4 separate regions of the Homo sapiens genome follow, and all the other regions are reported to be linked to region 2. Evidence: microRNA targets listed by miRTarBase, many of them from high-throughput screens and not tested one by one. Region 2 holds a microRNA gene; each other region holds the end of a gene's coding sequence.
Evidence for each region. Region 2 holds the annotated microRNA hsa-miR-548a-3p (CAAAACUGGCAAUUACUUUUGC, at 3,827-3,848, shown strand). A microRNA usually pairs through its seed, bases 2 to 8, with sites in the 3' UTR of a target mRNA and lowers its output. Matches are read on the target gene's strand: a 7mer-m8 pairs with bases 2 to 8, a 7mer-A1 pairs with bases 2 to 7 and ends in A, and an 8mer does both.

Region 1: the mRNA of KCNS2 is a reported target of hsa-miR-548a-3p. Seed matches in the 3' UTR shown: 7mer-m8 at 4,918-4,924, 7mer-A1 at 4,557-4,563 and 8mer at 1,685-1,692.
Region 3: the mRNA of EML6 is a reported target of hsa-miR-548a-3p. Seed matches in the 3' UTR shown: 7mer-A1 at 4,661-4,667 and 7mer-A1 at 4,297-4,303.
Region 4: miRTarBase lists HMGB1 as a target of hsa-miR-548a-3p. Seed matches in the 3' UTR shown: 7mer-m8 at 709-715, 7mer-A1 at 2,429-2,435 and 7mer-m8 at 2,719-2,725.

The regions. Positions count from the first base shown.
Region 1 is chr8:98,429,034-98,434,485 of GRCh38, reverse strand. It overlaps KCNS2 (potassium voltage-gated channel modifier subfamily S member 2), which reads right to left. Exons shown (of 2, transcript NM_020697.4): 2 at 1,633-5,452. The coding sequence ends at 5,073. It also overlaps a transcript of STK3 not described here. Among named protein-coding and RNA genes, the nearest start is that of KCNS2, 4.8 kb to the right of the region's middle.
Region 2 is chr6:135,235,394-135,240,907 of GRCh38, forward strand. It overlaps MIR548A2 (microRNA 548a-2), which reads left to right and starts at 3,767; the gene lies at 3,767-3,863. LOC105378011 (a long non-coding RNA gene) reads right to left here and starts at 802. Exons shown (of 3, transcript XR_001744368.2): 1 at 627-802.
Region 3 is chr2:54,969,453-54,974,966 of GRCh38, reverse strand. It overlaps EML6 (EMAP like 6), which reads right to left. Exons shown (of 42, transcript NM_001039753.4): 42 at 2,942-4,896. The coding sequence ends at 4,872. It overlaps RTN4 (reticulon 4), which reads left to right. Exons shown (of 9, transcript NM_020532.5): 6 at 203-272; 7 at 1,100-1,146; 8 at 1,346-1,404; 9 at 1,769-2,778. The coding sequence ends at 1,811. Among named protein-coding and RNA genes, the nearest start is that of RTN4, 78 kb to the left of the region's middle. RefSeq lists a silencer at 304-505.
Region 4 is chr13:30,456,629-30,462,051 of GRCh38, reverse strand. It overlaps HMGB1 (high mobility group box 1), which reads left to right. Exons shown (of 5, transcript NM_002128.7): 5 at 519-5,348. The coding sequence ends at 695. Among named protein-coding and RNA genes, the nearest start is that of HMGB1, 6.6 kb to the left of the region's middle.

The sequences.
Region 1 (5,452 bases), not on the chromosome of region 2:
TGGAAATGCTAGTTTAAATTTCTCCTAAAAGTAGGAGGAGATAATAACCGTGTACATGCAACATTTAAGTTCTTCCCTCAAGGGGAGGTGTTTGTTTTTCCTTTTAAGATGTAAGGCATCCTGGCCCTAAAATACCCCCTGAATATCCATTTATACCCTTGCTGCAGGGATGGTGGCTAAAGGGGAGGAGCTGAGCTACACCCCACTTGATGGAACGCAAAGACTGTGGTGAGGTTGGAGAGCAGTGCTGTGCGTCCTTCCTCAGCCTTAACGAGTGCGGGGCAAGGTTAACACAGATTTCTACACCCTTTTGCTGCATACACAGACGAGGCCACCTGCAGATGCCACCACTGCTCAGTGTGAGTTGAGTGTTGGATGGGAGAGCCATCTGCTCCATACACCTCAGGGCCCCTTCTGGGGCCCAATAACCTCATGGGAACAGGTAGGGGATCTCCTAGCCTTCACAAAGGCAACAAACCAAAATGAGCAAAGAGTTAGCCCTGAAGTCGAATGGGATCTTATTGATTTTCCTCTGCCTAATGATTGTTAATAGGAGGAATCTGGATTCCGTGTACATAGGTGGAAATAGTGGAAATCCCAAAGGAGACAAGCTGATGATTTTAAAACTTGATTCACTTGGATCAGAACCTAGCTCAAGCATTTTCCTGATTGCATTGTCCCTGCAACTGTCGTCTATTGTAGCTGACTGCTGAAGAGGAAATGAAACCAAATAGAAGGTTGTTTGTAAGCAATCTCTCTGCTCTTCTTAAAAATAAATTAGGGATATCAGGATCGGCTCATGGCTAGAATGAGGACATAGAGAGACATGCAGAAATTCTGTTTTTATATTGAGGTGAAGAAGTGGGTAGGGAGGGCTTTAAGGATTATCTAATCCAACCTTCTCATTTTGCAGCAGTGGAAGGTGAGGCTTGGAGAGGCCACAGGATGTGCCTACAATCACAGAGCTGGAGGCAAAACCCAGCAGAACCAAGTCAGCCCAGTGGCCTTCCTACCGATTCACCATGGCCTTTGGACCGGCCCATACTCAGTCTATTTTAAGTAATGCCAAGAAGTGTCTCTATGTATCCCCCAGCAGTATTCATGCCCAACCAGCCAGGACACTCAGGGTTCCCCAATTTACTATTAGGGAGCCTACTTCGGCAGCAGGGAGAGTGGTACTTTGGGACAGGTTGGGGCTGGCAGGGCAGGCTGACAGAGGTGCTGAGCAGGAAAGCATGCAGGAGGAAAATCCTGCAGGGGTGTCTGTTTCACAAGAGTTACAAGAATACAGGACCATTCCTTCTACCAAGGAGGCTAGTGGTTCGAGATCCTAGAAAACTAGGACTCCGCCTTTACCAAGAATAAACAACAGCTTCTCCTTCCCCAAATTGCAAAAACAAACAAACAAACAAACAAAAAAAACACCCAGGCTTTCTCAGGAAATCTGGTCCCCAACTTTGAATGCCCTCCTTGTTTGCTACTGCATATGTAATTGAAATGCCTCCAAGAGATGCAAATAATTTTTGTCTATTTAATCTGCACACTTTTTGAGGCTGGAGTCCCGAGTGTGTCAGTATTACTGCCCATTCCCGAATCGAGGCACAGAGATGAAAGTGCAGCAATCAGACATAATGGTTCAGTGCAGCCTGTGTCAATGCTTGCACAGTAGTGTGTTAATGAGTGTTAAAACTGACATCTCAAATATGGCATCCTCAATTTTAAAAATTACAGCTCTGTAAGAAGTCATGCTGTTAAAACACACAAGAAATACCAGTTACGCCTTCAAGTAGCTAACACACAGCCTGTACAGATCACCACTATCCCAAAGTGCATAACAACTTATTTTCTTTGAAATGCGGCAAGAATTAGCAGGTAGTTCAATTATTTGAGTGCTAAGATAAGTAGAAATAACAAATGCAAATGTTAAATACCAATTACTACCTTACGAGCTACAAATCAGCTTGGCATTACAACATGCCCTTCCTCACTCACAAACCCGAGAAATGTGGGGGTTTGGCAGAAAACACAAACCTATAACCAATATGCATTTGTGCAACAGACGTGTCACTTCCCAACCCAGCACTTCCAAAATGCACATCACAGATATCAAAGCCTGGCCCATATATTTGGCCCACTGGCATTGAAAACAATAACCTTCAAATGCTGGGAGTGACACTTCTCTCAAGCTCACAGCTGGAAACAAGTCATCTCCAGTTTCTACTCTGTCCCCCTAAAGGAGGTTTACAGGTCAGTCTGACAGCCTGGTTGCCAAAGATGTCACCTCATATTTTTACAGAAAATTAACCTGACTCTCCCTGGTTAGCTTCAGGGACTAAAAGAAACTGCTGGTTAGATGTTATCTAGCAAGGTCGATCAAAGACCCAGTGGAGAGCACCTGTAAACTTCAAACCTTAGTGAGACTTTAGGGGAGAGGAAGATTATTTCTCCCTGGGTCACCATTCAGTCTACATTCCTTGTGGGAATTAGCTCCAGGGTTTAAGCCAGCCGGGTTGTTCTTTCTCCCACTTATCTGAAACCACCACTTGAAAAACTCAATGCTATTGGGACATTCTCATGCTCAGAAGTGAGTAAAGGTCCAGTTGGGCAAGATAATATTTTATATAAGTATATATGTATGTACAAGAGATGTTAAAAAGATAGTCTCTAAAGCACGTTGGGATTCCTCCAACGAAAGGCACCAGATAAATGCAAGTCATTACCAAAAAGAAAAGTCAAGTTTTCCAGCTTTCACATCTGCAAAGGGTAACCACTAGGGTACCTCTTTTTTGGTGGTAAGCCTTCTTGTTTAGAAAAATCTTCATGAAAGTGACTGAGTTATTCTGCCTTGTTCCTTGCTTCCACTTTGCATAAGCTTCCTGGTCAGCGGCCATGGATACCAGGCTCAGTGACCCAATACCATCAGCCTTGGCAAACTGATCCGTCCTCATAAGTCTGTACCACCACCTGCCTTCAGTGCAGCTGGGGATGAGTCCGTAAATGTTATGCCTTCCAGGGCTGGAAGCACCAGCCAAATCTAAGTGTTCCATGTGCAAATTCTGAAAAATAACTCTGCTCCTCTGATTCAGTGCCCAGTTGCCTCTAAGTCATCTCACTTTTCCTGATGCTTCAGAGACACGGATGTAGACACTAGGAGACAGCCACCTCCCAGCCTCCCACAAGCCTCCAGTCCAATGGAAAGATTTGAACTGGGGGCTCCAGGACACAAGTGGCTAGTGAATTCATTCAATAAATCACCCACACTGTAGTAGCCATGACAACTACAAGAACACAAAGCCTTCTGATAAGATCCTTGCCACACCTCCAATGAGGTAAGTATCATCTTCAATCAACTGAAACACAAAAGGACCTCTTAAGAAGAGGCCCAACCTTTGGATGAAAACCCTGGATAGCTCCATGCTCAGACCCCTGGGTTCTATTGCCTTTTCAAAGATGGAACAATAATGAAAGCCACCTGGAAAACCATCAGATTACCTTAAAGATGATGGAGAAGAATTATCTTATAGAGGAACCCAGGTTCCCCATCACAATGTTATGTGCTGGTTAACCGAACAAGAGGAGCAGGAGCATTTTGGAGGAGGAAACAGTCGTCTCCCTTCAATACAAGTTTGGAAGCTTGAAGGTCTTTTGAATAGCATTAAGCTTTTCAAGTTTACAATTTTTTATGACATTTTATGAACTAGCAGTTTTTTATTTTACAACTCTTTCCTTTCTCCTGGCCTCTACCCAGTCACCCCCCATGAAAGGCAGTGGGAATGCAAGTAAGAACTGCAGTGTTTCCATCCTGGGTAAGCCACACCACCATCGTGCACGTCTATATTTTGAGTACATGCTTCCATACCACCAGGTTTCCATGTCATGGCAGGAACTCCAGGGCAATCACAGCATCATATACAACATACTATATCCTAGAAGCAAAATTATCTGACTAAATTCTGCTTGGAAATAAAAGGGCTCTCATTTGATGAGCTTTCAGAGTAGGCAACAAAAGTATTTAAGCTACTGCCCTTGCTAGCAACCCAACAACGTTCACCTCAGGGAGACGATACAACAGTAAACTTCTTTTTAGTTGAGGAAGACAACACGACCTTACTCCTAAACATCTTAAAAAATAAATATTTCAAAAACATGCTAATATCTTAGACACAGCAAAGTTTGGTCAAATGGCCTAGATCAGAAACCTCATCCGGAAATACATTTCTCTACAGTCACCCTAGGAAACAAGGAGGCTTGACTGTGAACCAAGGGGCTCAGCCTGCACTAACTTGGCTTTAAGCACCCTAGGGTTTGGACTATTTAGCTGAAGCCCCTCTCCCTAACACATCTGTTCTTGGGAAAAAAATTCGATCTTCACTGCATGTTTAACTAAGTAACATTCTCTAAAGAGTGACATTTATGAGATGAACATCAGTGTACATCGTTCTAAAGATGATTGGTGCACCCATGCAAGCCACGGAACTACAGATCATTTATAAAAACAACTTAGAGACTTGCATTGGTCAAGTCTGCTTAACTTTGCATTCTCTTTGTTTTGGTACTAAAACTAAGTGAAAGCAATGGATAAAGAGCTGAGATTTTGTTTTCACATGACTGTGAGCAAAATCTCATCATATCCTTGCTGACCTCATAGATGCATTTCTACTGGACGACTTGTGGGGGCTTTTTGTACAGAACTCACACGACAACCTCAGAAACAGGAGCACGACAACTCATAGACAGTACTGGGCCACAAGCACTAGAATAGCGTACACGATGGACAGAAAAATTAGCATTCTGGGTGTACTCATCTGGCAAAAAGGTGAACATTTTATGCCCACGATGCAAAGACCAGTGAGTGTCATTTCATGGAAAGGTGCAAAGGCATGGTGTCAGACACACCACCCTCTAAAAACGATTCTAAAAACTGTAAAAGAAACCTGGGTGCATATCCCATGCATCTCTCCCCTCAGGGGCTGGGCATACTCCTTACACCATAACCATAAGGTGCCTGGGCTGTGCCAGAGGCACAAGAGGCAGCTCAGCAATGTGGGGTGGAGGGTGACAAGTCCTCCCGGCTAACGTAGGGAATCATTTAAACTGAGTTCACTTGGTGAGCTCCTGCTCATGTTCGTCAGGCTTGCCATAAGGGATTTAACTTTATGGGCATAATAGTCCCTTAAATTGACCGAAGGGACCTCCTTCATTCCATCTCCAAAGTCACAGCTGCGCATGGCACTCTCAAGTTGCTTTTGGCGCCGGTAAAAGTGGGAGAACTTATTGAAGATCAAGGTGATGGGCAGGACCACCACGAGGATGCCTGCCAAGATGCAGGCAGAGGCAGTCAGCTTTCCTGCCGTGGTCCCTGGGACCACATCCCCGTACCCCACTGTGGTCATACTGACGGTAGCCCACCACCAGCAGGCAGGGATGGTGGCCAGGCCCTCGTTCTCCTCCT
Region 2 (5,514 bases):
TCCAAAATGCCCTCCTAGTCCAATATAACTAGCTCCTGTATACATTTCAACAAACATACTTTTAAAAAGAATTTTTAGCCTCGGAAAAATGTAGGCGGAATCTCTAAACCTCCCACCCAAGGAAGACAAAAGAATAAGAGGACAGAGAGGCCTAGCAGACAAAATCCAAGCCATACGCAGCAAGTAACCCCAGAAGCGGAAGCCACCCTGGCAGAACATACTCTTACCATCTCTGGAACATGGAGACCTCCACATTCATCCGGGACCCCCAGAGGGGACTAAAGTGCTTCCAGGTTGGTAGCTGTGGTGCGCAGAATTCTAAAGATGACCCCTTCATGCAGAGTCCTGTGCCTTACTTATGCAAATGCTAAGCTAGGCACAGCTATGAAAGAGTTTTGCAGTTGTCACTAAACTCCCGAGTCAGCCACCCTGCATGAAGATCATACTGGTGGGCCTAGCCCAGCAGGCAAGCCCTTTAAAGCAGAGAATTTTCTCTAGAAAGTAGCAGAAGAGGAAGTCAGAGAAATTCAAAGCGTGAGGGGATTCACGCCTATTACTGGCTTTGAGGATATAGGGGTCCTCATGCAAGGAACAGAGAAGCCCCTAGAGCTGAGAGTCACTCCCACCTGACAGCCAGCAAGGAAGGGGTCCTCCGTCCTCACCAGCCACAGGATCTGAATTCTGTCAACAGCCTGAAGGAGGTCGAAAGCTGATTCTTCTTCTCAAGGACGTCCAGATAAGCGCGCCATCCAGCATCTGCCTCCATTTTGACCCTGTGAGACCCTAAGGACCCAGCCCTCTCCTAGCCTGTGGACCACATCCCTGTGAGCTCATAAAGGAGGGTTGTTTTAAGTGGCTAAGTCTGTGGTAATATGTTATGTAGCAACATGTGTGACTATGAAGTTTAAAGGTATGAATTTTAAAGGGGAAAGGGAATACAAGCCGCCTACTCCTGATAACTGGTTAAAAGGAAAACTGTCACCAGATAAAATCAAGTCTCAGTGAAGGGAAAGAGATCAGGCAGCACTGAAGTTTGACATGTGCCTGTCAAAATGAGAAGATGATAGGATGACCAGAAAGATGCTCACAAACACAGTTATCAAATATCAAGTTCTCCTCCCTTCCTTCCTTCCTACATTCCTTCCTCCCTCCTTCCCTCCCTTCTTCCTTCTTCCTTCCTTTCTTCATTCCTTCCTTTTCTTCTTTCTTTCCTTCATTTTCTTCTTTCTTTCCTTCCTTCTTTCTCCCTCTTTCTTCCTTTCTCTTTCTTTTTCTGTCACAGGATAGAAGATTACATTCATAAAGCTACATGAAAAGCACATATCTCTGCTTTTCATAAAGCAGAAAATACCACAGTCAGATGGAGGTAGATCTTCCTACTTCCCAAAAAGTTTCCCAAAGGGATATATAGCTGTAACTGTACATTCCTACCATCTTAGAGTGAGGATTCTGCCAGGCATGAAAAACTCCTTTGTCCCCTCCTGCCTGATGCTGATGGAAACCCCGCCTTCCTGCCTCTCCTAACACCTTCCTGTTTGCTCTAGATGCAGCGAGATGAAGGCAAATGTCCCGAGAGCACCGTGAGCAGGCTTAGCTTCAGGCTGGTCTGAAACCCAAACCCATAGTTGGTTTTTTTTCGTTTTGTTTCGAGACAGGGTCTTACTCTGTTGCCCAGGCTGGAGTGCAGTGGTACAATCATGGCTCACTGCAGGCTCAAACTCCTGGACTCAAGCAATCCTCCCATCTCAGCCTTTGGAGTAGCTGGGATGATAGGCACGTGCTGCCTCACCCAGCTAATTTTTTTATTTTTTGTAGAGACAGGCTCTCGCTATGTTACCTAGGCTGGTCTCAAACTCCTGCCCTCAAGAGATTCTCCTGCCTCAGCCTCCCAGAGTGCTGGAATTATAGGTATGAGCTGCCATGCTCAGCACCATGAGGGTTTCTTGATGGTTGAAGGGGAGCTTCAGAAGGCTCAGGGAAAACAATGTGAGGTGCATCTGAGAAGTGAACTAGCACTCAGAAATGTGGGGCCGGGTGCAGCAGCTCATGCTTGTAATCCCAGCACTTTGGGAGGCCAAGGCAGGAGGATCGCTTGAGCCCAGGAGTTCCAGGTGGTAGTGAGCTATGATTGTGCCACTGTACTCCAGCCTGGGCAACAAAGCAAGACCCCATCTCTAAAAATGAAAGGAAGAAAAAAAGAAATGTAGGCCCTGAACATGACTCTGTCATTTTGGGCCTGATGGTGTTAAGCCATTTAATCTTTCTGACATAATGTATTGTGTGGGGGGTGGGGTCAGGGTGCTGAAGGGGGCAGGGCAGGGAGAAGACAGGAGCTTTCCCAACTATGCTGAGAGAATTGTTGTTTTTTCACTTGGACACATGAAAAAATGACAAAATTCATAAACTCTAGGGGAATTGTCGGATTTAAGTCATAGTTCTATTGATCTTACAATAGTGTAAATATTTTTTCCCAATCAAAGATGTACTACAGTCACTTCCACGTTGCTCAGTGTGAGATGATAGGCCAGACACAGTGGCTCATGCTTGTAATCCCAGCATTCTGGGAGGCTGAGGTGGGAGGATCGTTTGAGGCCAGGAGGTCATGACCAGCCTGGTAAACATAGTGAGACCCCGTTTCTACAAAAAATAATTAAAAAAAAAAGAATGTGAGATGATAGTCCAATGGTCCAGTGATACATCTTTCCTGCCTCCTACGTTTTCTATTCATGTGAATATTTGCTTTTTTTTTTTTTTTTTTAGATGGAGTTTTGCTCTTGTTCCCCAGGCTGGAGTGCAATGGCGCCATCTCTGCTCACTGCAACCTCCACCTCCCGGGTTCAAGCAATTCCCCTGCCTCAGCCTCCCGAGTAGCTGGGATTACAGGCATGCGCCACCACACCCAACTAAATTTTGTACTTTTAGTAGAGACGGCATTTCACCATGTTGGGCAGGCTGGTCTCAAACTCCTGACCTCAAGTGATCTGCCCACCTCGGCCTCCCAAAGTGCTGGGATTACAGGCGTGAGCCACTGTGCCCGGCCATTTTGGCCATTTGCACAGTTTTGAATATGTACTCTGCTTGCACATACTTTTTTTTTTTAACTTCCTTATTTATTGACTTGATCAGTTGTGATTTCTGTGATGGTGACTGTGTTTACTTGGGGAAAAAACCCAAACAGAAGTCCTGTTTATTGTTTTTCTCAAAAACGTCTAAGAGATTAGCAAGGCAAACTCTGTTGTCAGGAAAAGTCATGGGCAACCCAGAAGTATTTAATGCTTATAAAATTGTAAGTGTATGTAAGATGCTAATATAGTTGAGCTAAACTATAAGGAATGGGACTGTGTACCCCTGCAATTGCATACAAAGTTATGTATAACTGTGCTTTTCTCCACGAAAAGGGTCTTTAGGATTTGAGAACTCTTTAGTCTTGACCCCTTTAGTTACGGTTTTCTTGGATGCAAATGACAGGAACCTAACTTAACTATCTCAGCCACATCTTCAGAAGGTAGGAGTGGGGATAGCCTCAAAGGCAGCTGGAGGCAGAGACTACAATAGCATCAGTGTTGTTTCTGCTTCTTCTGTGGGTCAGCTTCATTCTCTCAAGCCACCAGCAGCTTCAGACTCATATCCTGATAAGCTTGCTACCTCCCAGCTCCAAGTATGAACATCTCAGGGAAAGACACTCCCTTACTGGCCCAGCCTGAGTCCATGCTGCTTGGGTCAGGTTCCCTAGAAGTAGACCCTGCCATGAGGCTGTGTGTGCGCGTGTGATGTGTATTAGGTTTGTGCAAAAGTAATTGGGGTTTTTTGCCGTTAAAAGTAATGGCAAAACTGGCAATTACTTTTGCACCAAACTAATATAATGAAAGTGCTCTAAGAGAAAGGAAATGGGAGGTAGGGGGCTCGGGGGAAGTACAGGGAACAGGACAGGGAATGGGGAAGAAGCCAAGCAAGGGTATGATTTCAGGAAAATTCCAGACTTAGCTTTATCCTGCAAGGTCACTGTAGTGTATAAATGATGCTCTGAGTTATCCAGACACCAGACAAGTTTCCTGGGCTTTAAACTCCCAAAGCAGTCAGGCATTGGCCAAAGGCCACCCCAGGGAGCATGAATTTCAAGTGCTTCTGACTCTTTGCACTTGCCTGCAGGCAACGCATAAAGGCAAAGCATCTTCAGTAGCCTAGGCTAGACCTCAGAAAAGAGTCACAGATGTGAGCTCTTAGACAAAAAGCACATAGAGCCAAGAGCACAGGCATGCAGAAATGGGTACGCCAGTGGAGTGGCACAAAGAACCAAGAGTGTCTGTTACACGAGGCTTTTTCAAGTGCCTTGGAATTCCATGTATCCTCTGTTGATTCAAGGTCTCTCTTCTTGAACAGCGATGTGGCCAAGAATGTGGGGTGACATAAATGATGGCTGCTACCATTGGCTCTCATGGCTAAAACTAGGAGAAGAAGTTCCTCCAAAGGAATGTGATAGACAGGTAAAATATAATTGTCTACTAAAAATACTTCTAAAAGATTAAGAACATGAAAGCACTTTCAAACTGGAATTCTGCAGATAACATTGAAGTTTCAAGGAGTCTTGGTCTTGAGATCTAACATTGGAATACAGTATTATAATGGATGCAACATTCAGTTCTTTATGACACTTGTTCTTTTAAATATTTACTCATGGAGATGTCATTTGTAAAAAGAGTTTCTAATAGAAATAAAAAGCACTGGAGAATTTCAAAAACCATTCATAAATAAAATGTGTTTGGACTCATAGCAGCGTTTGAGTAAAGACAGATCTATGGGGAACTTATCTGGCTGTTCTCTGCTATCTTGATCTCGACTGAAGAAAATGGAATATACCTGAAATTTTTTGTTGAAAATATTTTAGTCTTAGAAAACAGTGTTTCACGTTAAGAGAGCATCATGTCTTCTTTATTTTTTTAAAAAAGCAATTTTGAAGTTGGAAAATTATTAAAGGTATATATTATGATTTACAGCTGATTCCAAGAGTACACATTTTGAAACAAAATATTACAGAATATTATAAAGCAAATGTTTCTTCAACCTATTAAAAAATACAGAATGAGGCAGCTGCAAGGAAAGAGGCATTCTCAATTTGCTGGAGATTTTTACAGAATTCATTAAACACTGAGATCACATTGAAGACTGGAGAAAGCTCAGAGATGCTTGGATTTCATTCATGAGGACAGTTTACAATGGATCAGAAAAGCTTATTTCCAGTTTACAAAAATGATAGCCAGGCACAGGACAATACTGCTAAGATGAAGGGAAAGTCAATGGAGTTGTAGAAAAGTTCCAGGAGGAAGAACCAAGGGTTTGCTTATGCACCAATGGCCACGTAGCACCTGTTTTCTGGTCTATTCTTGCTCCTTGGTTTTAAATGTCTTAATAGTCTTCGTACCTTTCAAGGCTTGACTCACTCCCCTTGGACCTGATTCTTGACATTTCTCTCTGATATGGATCTACAGTCCTCTTATTGGCTATGATGTATATTGG
Region 3 (5,514 bases), not on the chromosome of region 2:
GTCAAATCTATTAATTATTTTAGGATTTTGAAATTCATAATTGAGACTCGTGACTTAATAGTGAACTGCTCATGGTACTTTACCCAGTCTTCAAGTTGTATGCCTTTTGTAGGTAGGCATTTAGATGGGATGCTTTTGAAAGCATAATTAAGAAACTTTACTTGAATTTTGTTTATAATGGGCTAATGTTATTTTCTTATAGTTTGCAGTGTTGATGTGGGTATTTACCTATGTTGGTGCCTTGTTTAATGGTCTGACACTACTGATTTTGGGTAAGTCTACAAAGCCATTGGGATGAAAAATTGCTGGAAAGATTGTGTGCCAGGAGCTTAGACATTTTAGTGGAGAATATTCTCATTGTATGAAAAGTAGGGGATGAAAATGTGGGCCGGGCGCGGTAGCTCATGCCTGTAATCCCAGCACTTTGGGAGGCCAAGGTGGGCGGATCACCTGGGGCCAGGAGTTCGAGACCAGCCTGGCTAACATGGTGAAACCCCATTTCTACTAAAAATAGAAAAAATTAGCTGGGCGTGGTGGCGCACGCCTGTAATCCCAGCTACTCCGGAGGCTGAGGCAGGAGAATCACTTGAGCCCAAGAGGCAGAGGTTGCAGTGAGCGGAGATCGTGCCATTGCACTCCAGGTTGGGCAACAAGAGTGAAACTCCATCTCAAAATAAGTTTGAGGTTGTATTCTCTTTAAATAAGTTGGTGATACTGCTTCCCGGTTTATTGAAATGCTACCTTAGTTGCTGAAGACAGCTCCTACTAACAAACAGTGATAAACCAGATAAAGGGTGGCTTTATATGATGGTGCAGTCATAAATCTAACCAGGGATACCTTTATTTTATGAAATCTCACTGTGATATGATTTGAAGCTAGAAATGGTTCCTAGCTCTAATAACTGCAGCCTCACACAGTTCATTCATTCCTCTGGAGTGGCTCCTCAACAGCAGATGCATCCAGAGATCCTTATGTTTTTATTCATTCATTAGGAACACTGCTTGGTTATCTTGAGTTGCCAGTTTAATAGTTTTTTGAGTGTTTATTCCTCCCAAATCATTCCGTTCTTTTTGAAAAGTTGTATATTTCCCTTTTCAGCTCTCATTTCACTCTTCAGTGTTCCTGTTATTTATGAACGGCATCAGGTAATTTCCTAACTAACTGCTGACTTCAGAATAGAGCACTCACTCTATTACATGGGATTTACGGATGTATTAGTGCCCATTTTCAATGTCTTACAAAAATGAGAAGTGTGATGGTTTCTTAAGCCTTTAGCTTGACACATAGTAGTGGTTAATAAGATTCTTTAGCAACGGTAATAATTCCTTTATACCTCTCTTTCAGGCACAGATAGATCATTATCTAGGACTTGCAAATAAGAATGTTAAAGATGCTATGGCTAAGTAAGTATTTAAAATCTGCAGTGTTTTTACTAGGATAAGGTGTGCTGGATTGTGAGAACAGTATTTTCATATTGCAGGCATAATGAGTAACAAATCTCTATCAGACCTTAAGTGTGACTTCAGAGTTGCCAAAAGATTGTTTTTCTAACATTTGGACCATTCGTTTCTGGGTTTATTATGTGTTTAAGGCTTTGTTTAAATCTAATTCATGAGGCCAAGGTGGCAAAATTATAGCTTAGAATTAGGCAGCTTTAAGGATTTCATTTATTGTATTAGCTGAATAACATACAAGTAGTTCTTGGAAGATGGTATTTTAAGCAGCAGCAAACAAAACTGATATTTACATTGACTTTTTCATTTTCAGAATCCAAGCAAAAATCCCTGGATTGAAGCGCAAAGCTGAATGAAAACGCCCAAAATAATTAGTAGGAGTTCATCTTTAAAGGGGATATTCATTTGATTATACGGGGGAGGGTCAGGGAAGAACGAACCTTGACGTTGCAGTGCAGTTTCACAGATCGTTGTTAGATCTTTATTTTTAGCCATGCACTGTTGTGAGGAAAAATTACCTGTCTTGACTGCCATGTGTTCATCATCTTAAGTATTGTAAGCTGCTATGTATGGATTTAAACCGTAATCATATCTTTTTCCTATCTATCTGAGGCACTGGTGGAATAAAAAACCTGTATATTTTACTTTGTTGCAGATAGTCTTGCCGCATCTTGGCAAGTTGCAGAGATGGTGGAGCTAGAAAAAAAAAAAAAAAAGCCCTTTTCAGTTTGTGCACTGTGTATGGTCCGTGTAGATTGATGCAGATTTTCTGAAATGAAATGTTTGTTTAGACGAGATCATACCGGTAAAGCAGGAATGACAAAGCTTGCTTTTCTGGTATGTTCTAGGTGTATTGTGACTTTTACTGTTATATTAATTGCCAATATAAGTAAATATAGATTATATATGTATAGTGTTTCACAAAGCTTAGACCTTTACCTTCCAGCCACCCCACAGTGCTTGATATTTCAGAGTCAGTCATTGGTTATACATGTGTAGTTCCAAAGCACATAAGCTAGAAGAAGAAATATTTCTAGGAGCACTACCATCTGTTTTCAACATGAAATGCCACACACATAGAACTCCAACATCAATTTCATTGCACAGACTGACTGTAGTTAATTTTGTCACAGAATCTATGGACTGAATCTAATGCTTCCAAAAATGTTGTTTGTTTGCAAATATCAAACATTGTTATGCAAGAAATTATTAATTACAAAATGAAGATTTATACCATTGTGGTTTAAGCTGTACTGAACTAAATCTGTGGAATGCATTGTGAACTGTAAAAGCAAAGTATCAATAAAGCTTATAGACTTAAAATATGCTTTGGTATTTTCATTTCATGAAATTGCAGCAGATTAAAAATGCACACAGTGGGTAAACTGCTTCAACCAGCGAATGGTAGCTTGTGCTTTTAGAAGGGTTTTTTTCAGCTGATGGTGCAGCTGTTTGTTTGTTTACTGTGGAAACAAAAGTCAACAAATGTGTTTACATAATCAAATTTTATTTGACACATAAAATGTTTAAGTGATGTGTTTTATACTTTGAAAATAAATTCATGCACCAATGTTTTAACTCACATATATCATACAGTGCAGGATTTATGAACATACATAAAATCAAAATCATACCATATAAACGTTTACAAATAAGTTTTTCATGACACACGGACACTATTGCTCTTTAAATATGGTTGTACATGTCATCATTAATCGATTCATTGTTCTTCCACATGGTTATTTCAATGCAAGATCCGATCAGCATGAAGAGTCTAGTACAAGATAGGCAGACATGGTTATCACTCTGCATCACCAGTCACATGGTTACAGAAAACAGAATTGGGACTGCATAGGGACTCTACTGCGGGCCCAACAACCTATTAGTGGATTGATGTAAGGCATTAGTAAATTGGCATATAAAAATAGCTTAATGAGTGATCTAATCCATTTAGAATGCTGAAGCACTTCTGTGGTAAATGTTAGTCTATTCTACAATTGAAAATGCCTCATTTTACCTTTTCTCTAAACTGACAAATGCAAGTAGCCAGTAACTGTAGGTCTAGAATTTTCGTTCACTGACCAGAAGGACTAATAGGCGTCTATGTGCTCAGAACCACCAGTCCCGCACCAACTCTCCTTTCAGTGAGCACTGTCAGCCACATCCTGTAGTCACTGGTCAGCTACATGGAAAGTGTGACTGAGGGGCTTACGGATGGCTTCTGGTAAAGATTGTCCAAGTCATATTCCGTCATACAACCAACTCCAAGGAACTCTAACTCACTTTATAATTTTGATTTACCAGCTATTCCTTGGGTTTACAATTTGTTCTGCAGATAATTTTTTTATAATCTGGACTTGACCTATATAGTTCGCCTGAAGCAATCAAATGAAGTCACCTCAACTCCACTCAGGGTGGTACACCAAGGTGCAGCCTTGGGTTACCCTCATTTATCTTAAGATTTAACGAGATAAGTCAGCTCATTCTCATAGACCTTCCTGAGCCTTTTTCCCCTTCCATTTTGTAGTAGAAGTTTGTTTAACTTGAATTCTATTTTGGATTTTGTGGGTTTGGCATGAAACACAATGAAAACCCATAATTCTACCCTGTCCCGAACTTCAATTCCTTTGCTGCTCACCTTCCCATAAGCAGGTAACCGATGTCTTTCATTTAGGAAGCCTTGGCGTGAACACAGGACAAGGGTGACACACTGAATCTGCTAAGGGTCCTGCAGCCCTCCTCAGCTTTGAGGTTTTAGCACCATATGGAGAAAGGAGAAATTGGTGGGAGGTGAGACAGCAGCCCACACAACTGGAAACTTTCAAAGGCACTTAATGGATATAAAACTCTGCAAATGAAACATTTAAAAATTAAGTTTCTCAACTCCTTTATACATGGCTCATTTGGTTTTGAAAGCTAAACTGGAGAACAGAGGCTAGCGATATTTCTAGTACTTCGGTGCATCTAACTTAGGCTGTCTTGTTCAACTTATTTGTAAAAATGAACATTCTTGAAGTATATAGAAACAATAGCAAAACATCTTTGTAAAAGTTTTGATGCAAATTAAAAGCTACATATTGGTTAGGGTAACCGAGGCTTCAAAATTCGTCAGCGGGCTACATTATCAGATAGGATTTCTTTGTCAATGTAGTTAGTATGTATACTGTTTAGTCTCAGGAACAGAGGCAAGCAGTCTTTAACATTTTAAAACTTGACCTTCCTTCGTGGCATCACGGTTTTGGAGAGTCCAGATTATGGGAGCAGTTGTGTAACTTCTGCAGCGTTTTGAGCTTGTGCATCCGGGGCAGCATGGTAGGCATTTCCCAACGGCTGGTGGCAAGGAGGCACCTCAGCATGGCCTCTGCAGTTGCTGGCTGGTAGCAGCAGCAGCAATAACATAAGAGGCTTCTGGCATTTTACAGACATCGCCACACAAATACACTGAAAAGGCAGATCAAACAGTCATTTTGCATAGCTGGACATCATACTTGTGTCAAGTGGCAAAAAACAATCTTGCCAAGTGCTCAAAAGTCAAGCTCGGGTGATGTATTGAACATTTTGACTTCAAAAGGTAAACCAGGGATCTTGCCACCAAATTAAGATCTATTGCTTTTCTTAAAAGGTCTGTTTTTTTCAGTTGAGTTCTGTTTGGTTCTTTCAGCAGTTTGAATGTCTGTGCTAAATGTTGGTCCGTGAGGACTTCTGGCACTTTGATATCACACTCTCTCCTGTTACTATTGAAAAGGTTTATCACCTCCACTTGAGTCAGAGAGCCCTTTTGAGTGTTTAGCACAGAACCAGGGATCACAGCATGCTCCCATGCCTACAAAGGCCTGCAAGCCCTGCACGGTTAAGGCCACTTCTTTTTTATATTAAAACAAGTCTGTATCCCCTGCATTGGGGTGACCAATTCATTTACGTCTTTTACTCCTAGCTTGTTCACAATTGGGTTGGTGCTGCTTTGAAGGGGTGTTAGCACTTCACAGGGAGCTGCTGGCGGTACTATCTCAAGGGCTATAAGTGCCAGAAGTAGCCAGCACAGCAGGCTGGAGATGGGGG
Region 4 (5,423 bases), not on the chromosome of region 2:
GTTCAGTAAATTGAAATATTAAATACTTAATTTTCAGCTTTAGTCATTCTGAAAAGTGTTTATTTCTAGATGTTTCTTAACCTAATTGCATGTTTATTGACAAATTACCTTTTTTTTTTAAGACCACATTTCCTACTAAGGATTAAGGTCTGACAGTGTAAACCTGTAGAGTGCTTTTTTGCATTCAGAAGGTGGCAGTGTCTACCCTTTAATCAAAGTCTCTACATTCTGGTTTTAATAGAGTTAGGATGTGGTACATAATTGCACCTCAATGAGGCATAACTTTGCAAATATTAGACTATGCCATTTCATGAGTTATAGATTGTTATAATGATCTTGTATTTTTATGTTCATTTATTGAAGTTCTAGTTATTTCTGGAGTTGCTGTGGATCTACAGATACGTGATATTTTGGTATAACTAGAATCTTGATTTCTTTCATAAAGTTCTGCCATGTTCTATTTCTTTCCTTAATGTTTTTTTCTTCCCTACTGTTTTATCCTCCCTTTGCTTTGGAAGGATATTGCTGCATATCGAGCTAAAGGAAAGCCTGATGCAGCAAAAAAGGGAGTTGTCAAGGCTGAAAAAAGCAAGAAAAAGAAGGAAGAGGAGGAAGATGAGGAAGATGAAGAGGATGAGGAGGAGGAGGAAGATGAAGAAGATGAAGATGAAGAAGAAGATGATGATGATGAATAAGTTGGTTCTAGCGCAGTTTTTTTTTTCTTGTCTATAAAGCATTTAACCCCCCTGTACACAACTCACTCCTTTTAAAGAAAAAAATTGAAATGTAAGGCTGTGTAAGATTTGTTTTTAAACTGTACAGTGTCTTTTTTTGTATAGTTAACACACTACCGAATGTGTCTTTAGATAGCCCTGTCCTGGTGGTATTTTCAATAGCCACTAACCTTGCCTGGTACAGTATGGGGGTTGTAAATTGGCATGGAAATTTAAAGCAGGTTCTTGTTGGTGCACAGCACAAATTAGTTATATATGGGGATGGTAGTTTTTTCATCTTCAGTTGTCTCTGATGCAGCTTATACGAAATAATTGTTGTTCTGTTAACTGAATACCACTCTGTAATTGCAAAAAAAAAAAAAAAGTTGCAGCTGTTTTGTTGACATTCTGAATGCTTCTAAGTAAATACAATTTTTTTTATTAGTATTGTTGTCCTTTTCATAGGTCTGAAATTTTTCTTCTTGAGGGGAAGCTAGTCTTTTGCTTTTGCCCATTTTGAATCACATGAATTATTACAGTGTTTATCCTTTCATATAGTTAGCTAATAAAAAGCTTTTGTCTACACACCCTGCATATCATAATGGGGGTAAAGTTAAGTTGAGATAGTTTTCATCCATAACTGAACATCCAAAATCTTGATCAGTTAAGAAATTTCACATAGCCCACTTACATTTACAAACTGAAGAGTAATCAATCTACTCAAAGCATGGGATTATTAGAATCAAACATTTTGAAAGTCTGTCCTTGAAGGACTAATAGAAAAGTATGTTCTAACCTTTACATGAGGACTCTATTCTTTAACTCCCATTACCATGTAATGGCAGTTATATTTTGCAGTTCCCACATTAAAGAAGACCTGAGAATGTATCCCCAAAAGCGTGAGCTTAAAATACAAGACTGCCATATTAAATTTTTTGTTGACATTAGTCTCAGTGAAGACTATGAAAATGCTGGCTATAGATGTCTTTTCCCATTTATCTAAATATGGACTGCTCAGGAAACGAGACTTTCCATTACAAGTATTTTTAATTAATTGGGCCAGCTTTTCAAACAAAGATGCCACATTCAAAATAGGGTATATTTTCCTATATTACGGTTTGCCCCTTTATAAATCCAAGTAGATAGGAAGAAAGAAGACAAACTTTGCATCTCAGTATGAATTATTCAATTTATTTGAATGATTTTTCTTTACAAAACAAACTCATTCATTAGTCATGTTTATCTGCTTAGGAGTTTAGGGAACAATTTGGCAATTTTGTGGTTTTCGAGATTATCGTTTTCTTAAAGTGCCAGTATTTTAAAATAGCGTTCTTGTAATTTTACACGCTTTTGTGATGGAGTGCTGTTTTGTTATATAATTTAGACTTGGATTCTTTCCATTTGCATTTGTTTATGTAATTTCAGGAGGAATACTGAACATCTGAGTCCTGGATGATACTAATAAACTAATAATTGCAGAGGTTTTAAATACTAGTTAAATGGCTTTCACTTAAGAACTTAAGATTTTGTTACATATTTTTAAATCTTGTTTCTAATAATACCTCTTAGCAGTACCTTTTAAATAAGTATAAGGGATGGCAAAGTTTTTCCCTTTAAAAATACTCACTTTATGCTTATAAATAGGTTAATGGGCTGATAAAAGGTTTTGTCAAACATTGCAAGTATTCGGTGCTATATATAAAGGAGGAAAAACTAGTTTTACTTTCAGAATGATTTAAACAAGATTTTTAAAAACAAGATACATGCAAGCGAACAGCAGGGTTAGTGATAGGCTGCAATTGTGTCGAACATCAGATTTTTTGTTAAGAGGAGCAAATGACTCAATCTGATTTAGATGGAAGTTTCTACTGTATAGAAATCACCATTAATCACCAACATTAATAATTCTGATCCATTTAAAATGAATTCTGGCTCAAGGAGAATTTGTAACTTTAGTAGGTACGTCATGACAACTACCATTTTTTTAAGATGTTGAGAATGGGAACAGTTTTTTTAGGGTTTATTCTTGACCACAGATCTTAAGAAAATGGACAAAACCCCTCTTCAATCTGAAGATTAGTATGGTTTGGTGTTCTAACAGTATCCCCTAGAAGTTGGATGTCTAAAACTCAAGTAAATGGAAGTGGGAGGCAATTTAGATAAGTGTAAAGCCTTGTAACTGAAGATGATTTTTTTTAGAAAGTGTATAGAAACTATTTTAATGCCAAGATAGTTACAGTGCTGTGGGGTTTAAAGACTTTGTTGACATCAAGAAAAGACTAAATCTATAATTAATTGGGCCAACTTTTAAAATGAAGATGCTTTTTAAAACTAATGAACTAAGATGTATAAATCTTAGTTTTTTTGTATTTTAAAGATAGGCATATGGCATATTGATTAACGAGTCAAATTTCCTAACTTTGCTGTGCAAAGGTTGAGAGCTATTGCTGATTAGTTACCACAGTTCTGATGATCGTCCCATCACAGTGTTGTTAATGTTTGCTGTATTTATTAATTTTCTTAAAGTGAAATCTGAAAAATGAAATTTGTGTGTCCTGTGTACCCGAGGGGTAATGATTAAATGATAAAGATAAGAAAAGCGCCCATGTAACACAAACTGCCATTCAACAGGTATTTCCCTTACTACCTAAGGAATTGTAACCATTGCTCAGACATTGTAGGATTTAACTATGTTGAAAACTACAGGAGAGGCCGGGCGCAGTGGCTCACGCCTGTAATCCCAGCACTTTGGGAGGCCAAGGCGGGCAGATCACGAGGTCAGGAGATTGAGACCATCCTGGCTAACGTGGTGAAACCCCGCCTCTACTAAAAATACAAAAAATTAGCCAAGCGTGGTGCTGGGCGCCTGTAGTCCCAGTAACTCAGGAGGCTGAGGCAGGAGAATGGCGTGAACCCGGGAGGCGGAGGTTGCAGTGAGCCGAGATTGTGCCACTGCACTCCAGCCTGGGTGACAGAGCAAGACTCCATCTCAAAAAAAAAAAAAAAACACAGGAGAGACAACTGGTTTTTGAATGAAATACATGGGTACTGCCTTGCTTGACATCACATAGTCCTTGATGAAAGTTCACATTTAGGTCTGCTTGGTACAATACGCCTCCTAAAAAGGTCCTTGATGAAAGTTCACATTTAGGTCTGCTTGGTACAACACGCCTCCTGAAAGGGTCTGATAGCTTTCAGTAGCAGTAAGACACTTGCATGTGATGGTAAGGTATCTGCAAATTTGCACACACCGTACACAGCTTAAGTCTTAGAATTAACTTGCTAAAATGTGAGCCTTTGGTAATTAGGCTGTTTTATTAGGGAGTGTGATAATATTTGAATTTCTTTTCATATTTGTGCTTTGTGTCATTTTCAAATGACCCTTGAAATGTATTTTAAAAGTAGATAAAAGCCAGAAAGTGATTTGATTGTCTATCCAGCAAAAGATGGTGGTTCATTTTCTTGTCCTCTTAATACCAAGGCAGTGCTAATAACACTTGCCACAACTTGGGAAATTCCATGGGTCTATGCCACATTGCTCCCAGAGTAATGAGGCAAAATAGTGCTCTGTTATAGAATTGCTTGTTTCACGATACATCATGACAGATAACCATACAACATGGAATGACACAAACATAATATGCCACACTCCAGAATATGTAATGCTCGTCTTCCAGGGGGGTTCAGTCTAAGGTAATCTCTACCAGGAAGAAATGCTAGATGACTTTAGACATGTGCATTGGTTTGGACCTTCTAATTAGTGGAATTTTTACTTATTTTGACATGAGAGATTACATAGAATCTCTATGTTGCCCAGGTTGGTCTCCAAATCTGCTCAAACAATCCTCCCGCCTCAGTTTCTCAAGTAGCTGGGATTACAGGGACACACCACTGTGCTTAGCTTAAATAGTTGAATTTATTGGGCATCCACTGAAAAGAAGGAAGTAGGAATAAAATCTGCAATAGTATGACTAAACCTGTAAGTGAGCATGAGCAGTGGTGGGCAAGGGTATGCAGACTCTGGAATCCAGAAATAGAAAGTCAGTGGAAAGCCAGGCACAGTGGCTCACACTTATAATCCCAGCACTTTGGGAGGCCGAGGTGGGAGGATCACTTGAGGCCAGGAGTTTGACACTAGCCTGGGCAACATAGTGAGGCCTTGTCTACTAGAAATAAATAATTTTGCAGATATACTAAATACCATTTTAAAAATAAGTGGAAAAGGGATTAGAGAGATCCTTGTAAATTATGTACTCATATTCATTGTTCTCTTTAGTCACATAATTCAGTCATGTACGTGACATTCCACAGTATGGTGCTCCATAATACATATTTTTTCTTTTTTCGATCTCACTTGTATATGATCCATAATATTTTTCATCATTCCCTTACTGATGGACATTTAGATTGTTTCCTATTTTTTGCTGTTTAACAGTACTGCGCTGAACATCTGTACATTTCTCTCAGGCATGTGTGGGTCTTCAGATACCTCAAAAGTAGAACTGCTGAGTCAAAAGACATTTGCATTTAACATTTTGGAAGATGTTGATAAATTGCACCCCACCACCCCCCCCCCCCGCCCACAAAAGCTGTTATTTATGCTGTGAAACATTTTAACAATGATTTTGCAATTAATCAAGATTTTTACTGGTTTTTCTTTGGCTGTATAACTCTATTTTTAAAAACGAGAAATTAAAATACTGAAATACT